2 separate regions of the Homo sapiens genome follow, and region 2 is linked to region 1. Evidence: fine-mapped expression QTL. A gene starts in region 1. The other region holds a variant in brackets. All regions are shown on one strand. Distances are from middle to middle. Region 1 holds the start of LSM12 (LSM12 homolog). Region 2 overlaps LSM12 (LSM12 homolog).

The links.
Region 2: its variant is fine-mapped to the expression of LSM12 in skeletal muscle (GTEx, PIP 0.96).

The regions. Positions count from the first base shown.
Region 1 is chr17:44,063,728-44,068,925 of GRCh38, forward strand. It overlaps LSM12 (LSM12 homolog), which reads right to left and starts at 2,944. Exons shown (of 5, transcript NM_001371445.1): 1 at 2,737-2,944; 2 at 74-207. The coding sequence starts at 2,860. RefSeq lists silencers at 2,477-2,616, 2,907-3,026.
Region 2 is chr17:44,037,290-44,042,487 of GRCh38, forward strand. It overlaps LSM12 (LSM12 homolog), which reads right to left. Exons shown (of 5, transcript NM_001371445.1): 3 at 2,858-2,967; 4 at 123-249. Among named protein-coding and RNA genes, the nearest start is that of TMEM101, 25 kb to the left of the region's middle. The variant C/T (reference allele first, on the strand shown) is at 2,193.

The sequences.
Region 1 (5,198 bases):
TGTATCACTAAGACTCAATGAGACTCATCTTTCCCACCATTTTAGAGAGCCAGATCTGCCCTTGAGTCCTTACCTTACTAACATTGAGTGAAGCTAGGGGAGGAGGGGTTTCTGTTCGGTCATTAATTATTTCCACTTCTGAAACATACTGTAAGTTTATGAGCAAGATGTCTGCATGGTTGGGCTTTCCACTGGAAGAGGGACATTCTGGTGAGAAAAAAAAAAGTTAAGGAAAAATAGGACAAGCAGAGGCACTGACACATCCCAAAAGGGGCATAGAAAACACGATTCACACAAGGCTTGTAAAAGGCAGGCCAGGAGCATGAGGGCCTTATAAGAATCACGGTTCTCCTCAGGAAATCTCTGCCTGTCACCTTCCTCCTGCCCAAATCCTTGGAAGCTTCCAAAGGAGTTCTGTCACTTTCTCTCTACTGGCTTTATGGAGAGGCATAATGCAGATTTAATGCGTTTGTCTTGAACCTATGAGCCAGACAAAAGAGCTAGACCTTTCTGTTCTTCGTATAATACTCTCTGTGTCTGCACAGTATTCTTTTTACTCTTTCAGATGTGAGCTTTCCCATTTTGCAGAGGAGAAAACTACACACTGGAAAGGAAATTCACCCAAGGTGACCCAGCCAGTTAATCCATTCATTCATTCACAAACTCATTCTCCAACCATTTAAGAGCCTACTGTATGTCAAGTAAAAGTTGAGTAATTCAGCCAGGCTCACGTGATGGCTCACGCCTGTAATCTCAACACTTTGGGAGGCTGAGGCGGGCAGATTACTTGAGGTCAGGAGTTCAAGACCAGCCTGGCCAAAGTGGCAAAACCCCGTCACTACCAAAAAAAAAAAAATTAGCCGGGTGTGGTGGCACATGCCTGTAATCCCAGCTACTCTGGAGCCTGAGGCAGGAGAATCACTTGAACACGGGAGGCGGAGGTTGCAGTGAGCCGAGATGGTGCCACTGCACTCCAGCCTAGGTGACAGAGCGAGACTCCGTCTCAAAAAAAAAAAAAAAAAAGTAATTCCTAGTTACAAGACCCTTCCAACTAAACCACTAATGTAAAAGGTCTTATTTCTTCCAGGTGTAACCTCTTATTTTTTTAAAAAAGCAACTATTCTTAGGCCGCGCGGTGGCTCACGCTGGTAATCCCAGCACTCTGGGAGGCCGAGGCGGGTGGATCACGAGGTCAGGAGATCGAGACCATCTTGGCTAACACGGTGAAACCCCGTCTCTACTAAAAATACAAAAAATTAGCCGGGCACGGTGGCGTATGCCTGCAATCCCAGCTACTCGGGAGGCTGAGGCAGAAGAATCGCTTGAATCCGGGAGACGGAAGTTGCAGTAAGCCGAAATCACGCCATTGCACTCCAGCCTGGGCAATAAGAGTGAAACTCCGTCTCAAAAAACACAACAAAAAAAAAAGCCGGGCGGTGGCTCAGGCCTGTAATCCCAGCACTTTGGGAGGCTGAAGCCAGCGGATCACGAGGTCAGAAGTTCGAGACCATCCTGGCCAACATGGTGATACCCCATCTCTGTTAAAAAAAAACATATACAAAAATTAGCTGGGCGTGGTGGCGCGTGCCCGTAATCCCAGCTACTCCGGAGGCTGAGGCAGGAGAATCGCTCGAACCAGGGAGTCGGAGGTTGCAGTGAGCCGAGATTGCGCCACCGCACTCCATCCTAGCGACAGAGCGAGACTCCATCTTAAAAAAAAAAAAAAAAAAAAGATGCCATAAAAAATTACTCCTCCAAAAAAAAATTCCAATAAACCCACCTGTGGCTCACATAAAAAGGGAAGCCGTGGCACATTTATCCCAACAAGGAAGTGTTTCATTTCCAAGACTGAGTTTCCTGGAGTAATTCAGAAGTCACTTCCACCCCAAAGAAGCAGGCCACCTTTTCCAATCAGTTTAACATTGCTACTTTCAAAAGGGAGGCTGCTACTACGTAAAAGGACTCCATGTGCTGGACTGATCAAGGCAGCATGAGAACTTCACTCTTTCACCTGTAACTCACACATCCCCAAACCACATAAGCCCCTGGCAAGCCCTCTCTGGAACAGGTTTCCAGTGCAAACATCCCCTAAACAGCAACTTCCAAATGACCGAGAAGCCTAAAAATCAGCACAGCCCCCCCACCACACATACACACGCATCAGCGAAACAAGCCACTATCCCTAGCTCAGATACAAACTCTGCCCTGAACTTACTCTCCCCCAAAACAGGCAAGGACCAATTTGGTCACCATCCCACCGCCCTTCCTTGGACGAAATCCCATCAGTGCACATGCCCTCCTAAATTCCATACCTTTGCCCTACCAGCAGTTCCTTACCCTAAACACCCCTCCCCATAATATTTCACCCGCCCCTCCTTTCCATCCGGGCTCCAATCCATCAGCCCCCTCCCACCACCACCCCCTCTCCTAATTACTGTGTCCCCTCTCATAACGTTCCCCCCAAAAAGCCATCCCCGTGTCAAGCCCTCCTCCACCCACTGATCCTCGGTAAAGCCCCAGCTCCCGCAAAGAGAGAGAGACAGGATCCCCAAAGCTGACCGAAGGGCCCGCGGGAGGGGGAGGGGAGCTCAGGGCCGTGCGCATGCGCCCCGGGCGCCGCGGTAGCCGGTCGCCCCTAGGCCCGGAGAGAGCCCCAGCCGCCGCCGTCGTCCCCCACCCCCCGACCACCGCACCTACACGCCGGCCCGGACTCGGGCTTCACGCAGGGAAGGATACTTAAAGCCAGCATTTTGGATTGGTAGTCAAAGGCTACCACCTCGCCCTGCAGCCGCTGCTCCTGGCACGTCCGGCACGACACCTGGCTCCCAACGCTGAAGTACTCGCCCGGAGGAGCCGCCATCTTGGGAGTGCAGCCGCGGCCGGCGGCGGCGGCGGCAGCAGCGGGCGAAAGCCGGGCCCCCAGTGAGCGCCGCGACGCGACGGCGCGCACGGAGCGTGCTTGCGTCACACGCCGGGGCGTGGCCTGGCGCTGGTTGGGGCGGGATCCTAGGTGGAGTGGGAAAGAAGAGGAAATAAAGGGGAATCTGAAAAGTATTTGTATAGCTGCGTCCGCTCGGTTAAGTGCTTGTAGAGTCCATTTTAGAAGTTAAGGATAAATGACCTACGTGGAATGAAAAGGGGAAAGAGGAGGGAGCTGCAGTCTCCATTATATGCACACCTTCCACACAAGAGTTTAATGAATGAATTTTATAAAATATGTTAACCCCATTTTGCATATGAGGAATCAGAGCCTCAGAGGACTTAACGATACTTGGACAAGATGATTATAAGGCTGGGAGCGGTGGCTCACGCCTGTAATCCCAGCACTTTGGGAGGCCGAGGCGGGTGGATCACCTGAGGTCAGGGGTTCGAGACCAGCCTGGCCAACATGGTGAAACCCCGTCTCTACTAAAAATACAAAAATTAGCCGGGTACGGTGGCGCGTGCCTGTAATCCCAGCTACTAGGGGGACTGAGGCTGGAGGATCTCTTGAACCTGGAAGGCGGAGGTTGCACTGAGCCAAGATTGTGCCACTGCACTCTAGCCTGGGCAACAGAGCGAGACTCTGTCTCAAAACAAACAAACAAACAAAAAAAGATGATTATAACTACTGAGTGATAGTGGAAAGAACATTGGCTGTGGAGTTAGATAAGCTGGAACCAGAATCCGAGGTCAGCCTCTTACTAAATCACCTGACCTTGAGCAAGCAAATTACCTGATCCTGTTTCTTCATAGGCATTTGTATTGTCACTTCTTGAGCATCTAACAGCCCTTTGAGGTAGGAATCAATGTCCTCCTTTTACATAAACTAAGTTTTAGACTAAACTTGTCCACGGTTCCACAACTAGCAAAAACAGTCTGCCTATTTCCAAGGACGGTGCTATTTACTGCTATACTCTGTTACATAATAATACCTACCTCATAGTTAGGAGGTTTAAATGCGGTAACGGGTATAAGTGCATGGCATGTACTAGGTCTTTAATAAATGGTAGTTCCCCCTTAGTCACCCATCACTCTTAGAAGTCAAGACACTTCCCCTTCTCCCTTTTTGCCCTCTCTCCCAGAAAGCCAGGCAAAAGGCAGGAATGAGGAGCAGCGGATAGTGACAAAAAGGGGCTTGGAGGAGGGGTTTTGCGCCCCTGCCCTTGAATGTCCGTCTGATGTACAAAACAGTCGTTTTCTTAATCTTATGCAAAGGACTATGAGCGTGCATTTTCAAGCCCTACTACCACCAATGGCTGTCGCTAACCCACCCACCGCTCACTATAGAAATTTTGGATCCTCGCTTCATGTATAAGAAACAGGTTGACCTTTCTCTAGTCCAGAGGGAAGCAAAGGGCCAGTCTTGGCGCGGCTTAACCTGAACAAAGTTCAAAAGTATTTCCTTGCCCTCCAAGAAACATAAACTTCCTGGTGTTGGAAGTATTGATACACTCATTATAATAGGAATAAAAATTCTGCTCCTTCATAGTGTGCTTTTTCAGAGAACTTTTTTTTTTTTTTTTTTGAGATAGAGCCTCGCTCTGTCACCCAGACTGGAGTGCAGTGGCGCCATCTTGGCTCACTGCAACCCGCACCTCCCAGGTTCAAGCGATTCTCCTGCCTCAGCTTCCGGAGTAGCTGGAATTACAGGCACGAGCCACCATGCCCGGCTAATTTTTGTACTTTTAGTACAGATGGGGTTTCACCATGTTGGCCAGGCTGGTCTCAAACTCCTGGGCTCAAGCAATCTTCCCGCCTCGGCTGGCCTCTCAAAGTGCTGGGATTACGGGCGTGAGCCATGTGGCCGGCCTCAGAGAACTTTCATGCCTCTCATCCTTGTTCTGGCCCCCATAATAAATCATACATAATTGCCATTCCAGTTTTCCACTTTTTATATGGAATCGTGATTATAGGTTTTCATATAAGACTTCTAGGAGCCATTAGGAAAGGCCTTCTTGGAGGAAGTGAAAAATCTCTACTGAGACCTGAAGGATTGGCAAGGAAAAAGAGTGGCCATGTTCCAGGCAGAGGGAACTGCACGGGCCAGGACCCCTAAGAGGAGAGAACTTGGTGATTTCAAGGAATGTATAGGTCAGAAATATTACAAAGCGGAGTGTGGGAGTAGGCTGCTTAAGGTTGAGGGCAAACCTCAAAGACTCGGTAAACAATGTAGGCTTTCTCTTCGGCAATTAAAAACTTCCTGGTATTGTCCGGGC
Region 2 (5,198 bases), 26 kb before region 1:
GACAGGGCCTCTGCTGCTAGAGGAGGCAGAGACTGTAGCACAATGTCCTGGTCTGGTGCTAAAGACTGAAGGCCTGAGGAACCATCCTCTCTCCCCTAAAGTCTGAAGGCTCCTTTACTTACTATTTTGCGTACATGGCTCAGTGCACTCCCCTCTTTGCCTTTACAGTTTTCCACTTGATATGGGGGTGTAATAACAACTTCTTCCATGACTACGATGTTTTTTTCTTGCCATTTACAGTCTTTAATGCTGGAAGGAGAAGACAGCAGGCGAAATGTAACCTCTTGGGGGCATCCCACATCTCCTGTCTGATGAATAAATAACTCCAGAAGGCTGATCCCAAGTTCCCAGCTCACCACTCAGCCAACAACTAGATGCCAGCAGCCCATATAGTAGCCAAGAAACATTCCTTGGGTGCCACTGGCTAGAAAAGCAATGAAACTCATGCACATTTATTCTTGGGAGAGCCCAGAAATTGTTACTCTGAAGCATCAGAGATCTGGAGAGCCATAAAAATGTGATAGTGGCCTCAAGAATCCAAATTAAGATAGCAGCCTAGGGCAGAGGCTGGCAAACTTTTTCTCTTAAGGGTCTTGTAACAAACATTTTAGGCTTTGCAGTCCATATCATCTGTTACAACTAGCACTGAGTTCTGCCATAGTTGTACAAAAGTAGCATGGACAATAGGTAAAACAGATGAGCAGATGTGGCCTGCTGGCATAGTTTGTCAACCATTGGCCTAGGGAGAAATACCACCTTTAGAAAGACAGGAGAACAGGTCGGGCGCGGTGGCTCACACCTGTAATCCCCGCGCTTTGGGAGGCCGAGGTGGGTAGATTGCTTGAGTCCAGGAGTTCGAGACCAGACTGGGCAACAGGGCAAAAACTCGTCTCTACTAAAAATACATACAAAAAATTAGCCGGTAGTGGTGGCATGCGTCTGTAGTCCCAGTTACTCCGGGGGCTGAGGTGGGAGAATCACCAGAGCCGGGGAGATTGAGGCTATAGTAAGCTAAAATCGCACCACTGCACTCCCAACCTAGGCAATAAAAGTGAGACCCTGTCTCAAAAAAAAAAAAAAAAAAGAAAGGCCAGGCACAGTGGCTCACGCCTGTAATCCCAGCACTTTGGAGGCCGAAGTGGGCGGATCATGAGGTCAGGAGATCGAGACCATCCTGGTCAACATGATGAAACTGTCTCTACTAAAAATACAAAAATTAGCTGGGCGTGGGACTGCGCGCCTGTAGTCCCAGTTACTCAGGAGGGTGAAGCAGGAGAATCGCTTGAACCTGGGAGGCAGAGATTGCAGTGAGCCAAGATTGCACCATTGGACTCCAGCCTGGTGACAGAGTGAGACTCCGACTCAAAAAAAAGAGAGAGAGAACAAACTCCCCATCTTCCTATGATCTGTACTCTGACCCTTATCACCCATAATGGGAGCTGCTCTTCAGACTGGCTCTTCTCAATTATCAGACAGTTGGGCACTTGCCAGACTGGGAAAACCCATTCCAGTTCACACTTGGGAAGCCCCAGGGCAGCTGATGCGACTGGGAGTTCCTTCACATACCTGTAAATGTTCAGATACTCACACCACAGCCTCAAACAGCTCTGATGCCAGCTGCCATCTGTGCACCAGATCCAGGGTGGTTAAACAGAGTAACAGATGGCAGTGTGGGGTGGGGGGAGGCGGGGTGGAGAGGGGTGTCAAATGTTCCAGTTTTTCAGCAGCTAGGGAAGCTAGTGGAGAGTCAAATGACTTCTGCTGTGACAAAATGTTTTTTTTTGAGACGGAGTTTTGCTCTTGTTGCCCAGGCTGGAATGCAATGCACAATCTTGGCTCACCACAACCTCCACCTCCAGGGTTCAAGCGAATCTCCTGCCTCAGCCTCCTAAGTGGCTGGGATTACAGGTATGCACCACCACGCCTGGCTAATTTTGTATTTTTAGTAGAGATGGGGGTTTCAACATGTTGGTCAGGCTGGTCTGGAACTCCCGACCTCAGGTGAACCGCCCACCTCGGCCTCCCAAAGTGCTGGGATTACAGGCGTGAGCCACCGTGCCCGACCAACAAAATGTCTTTTTTTTTTTTTTTTTTTTTTTTTTTGAGACGGAGTCTCGCTCTGTCGCCCAGGCCGGACTGCGGACTGCAGTGGCGCAATCTCGGCTCACTGCAAGCTCCGCCTCCCGGGTTCA[C/T]GCCATTCTCCTGCCTCAGCCTCCCGAGTAGCTGGGACTACAGGCGCCCGCCACCGCGCCCGGCTAATTTTTTGTATTTTTAGTAGAGACGGGGTTTCACCTTGTTAGCCAGGATGGTCTCGATCTCCTGACCTCATGATCCACCTGCCTCGGCCTCCCAAAGTGCTGGGATTACAGGCGTGAGCCACCGCGCCCGGCCCCAAAATGTCTTTTAAGAGGTGGTAAGAAGGTGGCCTGCTCTAACTCCCTGTGTTCATCCCAATCTACAATGGGAAAAGTGATATAGATATAACTTTCCCTTAATAAAAACTGCATCAGCTTTTAAAGAAAGGCACAAAACAACAAAATCAAAGAGAAGAAATCACTAGTTCTAAGTTATGGACTACTAGGTCTAGAAGGGATCCTTAGGGATAATCTAATCCAAAACTAAGTTTTACAGACAAGCAACTAAAGACCAGAGAAGACAACTTGTCCGTGATTACACTATTCTTCTGTGTGGAAAGGGGGCTACAGCACCTGCACCTCTGGATGCTGGCATATTGCCAATACCCTACCCAGCTTCCCCAGTAGACTTTTAGGAAGACAACCACCCAAAAGCCTGCCACCAGACAGCACAACCAGGTAGCATTACCCCAGGACAAAGGACCTCTCCGATCCCAACTCACGTCTTGTGAATGGTCTGGAAGAGCTGCTGGCCCTCTAGAGAGACACCAGCACTGATTGCATAGGCCTGGCTCAGCTTCTCCTCCTTCTCTGTCCGTGCTTTGCTGGCAAGCTAGGGTGGAAGAGAGGAAAGAGACTCAGAATAGGATTCATCTTCATTCTTGCCAACAGTCAGGACCTAAGCTGAAGAAAGGAGGCCAGGAAAGACTTGTTTGGACAGATTCTGTTTTCTCAGAAATGAAAAGTGAAACAAATTTTAAAAATCCACGACATACCTGAACAGTTACTGGTATTCCAAGAAAACGTTCCTTCCTTCCTTCTAATACTTACTGCATACCTACCATGTGCCAGACATTCACTATGCTAGGCTAAATATAGCCTGAAGTGGGTGGGGGAGACAGACTATAAACAAGTAACTGAAATCAAGGTGATTTCAGACAGTGATAAGCACTAGGAAGAAAATAAAGCACTTTTAACATTATAGAGTGTGGCTGGGGGACTATGTGATGGCAAATGATGGTCAGAGATTTAAAAATATATACATTTCCGGCCAGGGGAGGTGGCTCATGCCTGTAATCCCAGCACTTTGGGAGGCCGAGGCAGGTGGATCACGAGGTCAGGAGGTCAAGACCAGCCTGGCCAAGATGGTTAAAACCCTGTTTCTACTAAAAATACAAAAAAAAAAAAAAAATTAGCCAGGCGTGGTGGCGGGCTCCTGTAATCCCAGCTACTTGGGAGGCTGAGGCAGAGAATTGCTTGAACCCAGGAGAAGGCTGCAGGGAGCTGAGATCGCGCCACTGCACTCTAGCCTGGGTGACAGAGCAAGACTCCGTCTCAAAACAAAACAAAACCAAACAAAAAAAAATACATACACATACACACACACACACTTCTAACTGGGTGCATCACTGAGGTAGGGAGTTCGAGACCAGCCTGGCCAACATGGTGAAACCCCGTCTCTACTAAAATTACAAAAATTAGCCGGGCATGGTGGTGCGTGCCTGTAATCCCAGCTACTCAGAAGGCTGAGGCAGCAGAATCACTTGAACACAGCAGGCAGATGTTGCAGTGTGCCGAGATCATGCTACTGTACTCCAGCCTGGGCAAAGAAGTGAGACTCTGTCTCTTTAAAAAAAAAAAAAACAAACACACACACACACACACACACACACACACACACACACACACAAACACACACACACACACAGAATTTCCATTCAAGGCGAAAATTAAGATTTATCAGCTGTTGTGCTAGAGCCTCCAGTTTAAAAATTAATACATACCACACCTTCACAGACCACAATCTGAGACTCTAAAAACTCTTACAGAACATTATCTGTGCTCACATAGGGAGCCAGGACTCAAGTAAATCTAACCATAAACGCTGTCCACCTTTAACTTTAGCTAAAGGCAACCCTGTCCTGCTTTTGAGAAAAACGAAGAGTCTGAATTCTACGTCATGTCTGTTCCTTCACTGCCCTCTGGTGGAACCATCCACAAACTGATCAAAAGAAAATCTAGTAAAATCTGGTAGTCTACTACAATCTCGTAACTTCTACCCTGTCAATCCCTATCACCTCTCCAGCACATTTCTGATCCCTACCCCACACTACTGGTTGCTAGAGATTCCAGAGGTACAAATTTGTTTGAGTGTAAGACAAAACAAATGTGCTAGACAAGGTAGTTAAAACAAATTAAAGGCAAACAATGCATCTTAAAAGTCCAACAAATAATCTGGAGACTCTTCAGACCCATGAACATGAACAGCTGAGTCTAACAATGCTGCAGCACATGTGCAAACACGCGCGAGAACACACAATTTGTCCCCAAACATCAGTTCCTTAAATAAAAAGAGGCACTGGCTGGGCCCAGTGGCTCACGCCTATAATCCCAGTACTTTGTGAGGCCGAGGCAGGCGGATCACCTGAGGTCAGGAGTTTGAGACCAACCTGGCCAACATGGTGAAACCCCGTCTCTACTAAAAATACAAAAATTAGATGGGTGTGGTGGTGTGCACCTGTAATCCCGCCTACTCAGGAGGCTGAGACAGGAGAATCGCTTGAACACGGGAGGCAGAGACTGCAGTGAGCCGAGATTGTACCACTACACTCCAGCCTGGGCGACAGAGCAAGACTCCGTCTCAAAAAAAAAATGGGGGAGCCATACCTACAGCATATTCCAAAAGTACCTTAATGCTTGGAATCTTCAAACATTTATATTCTGCTTTTACAGTGATCCATCAAACCATAAACTAAGCATAGCTTTTTTTCTTGGGATTGAGTTTCACTCTTGTTGCCCAGGCTGGAGTACAATGGCACGATCTCAGCTCACTGCAACCTCCGC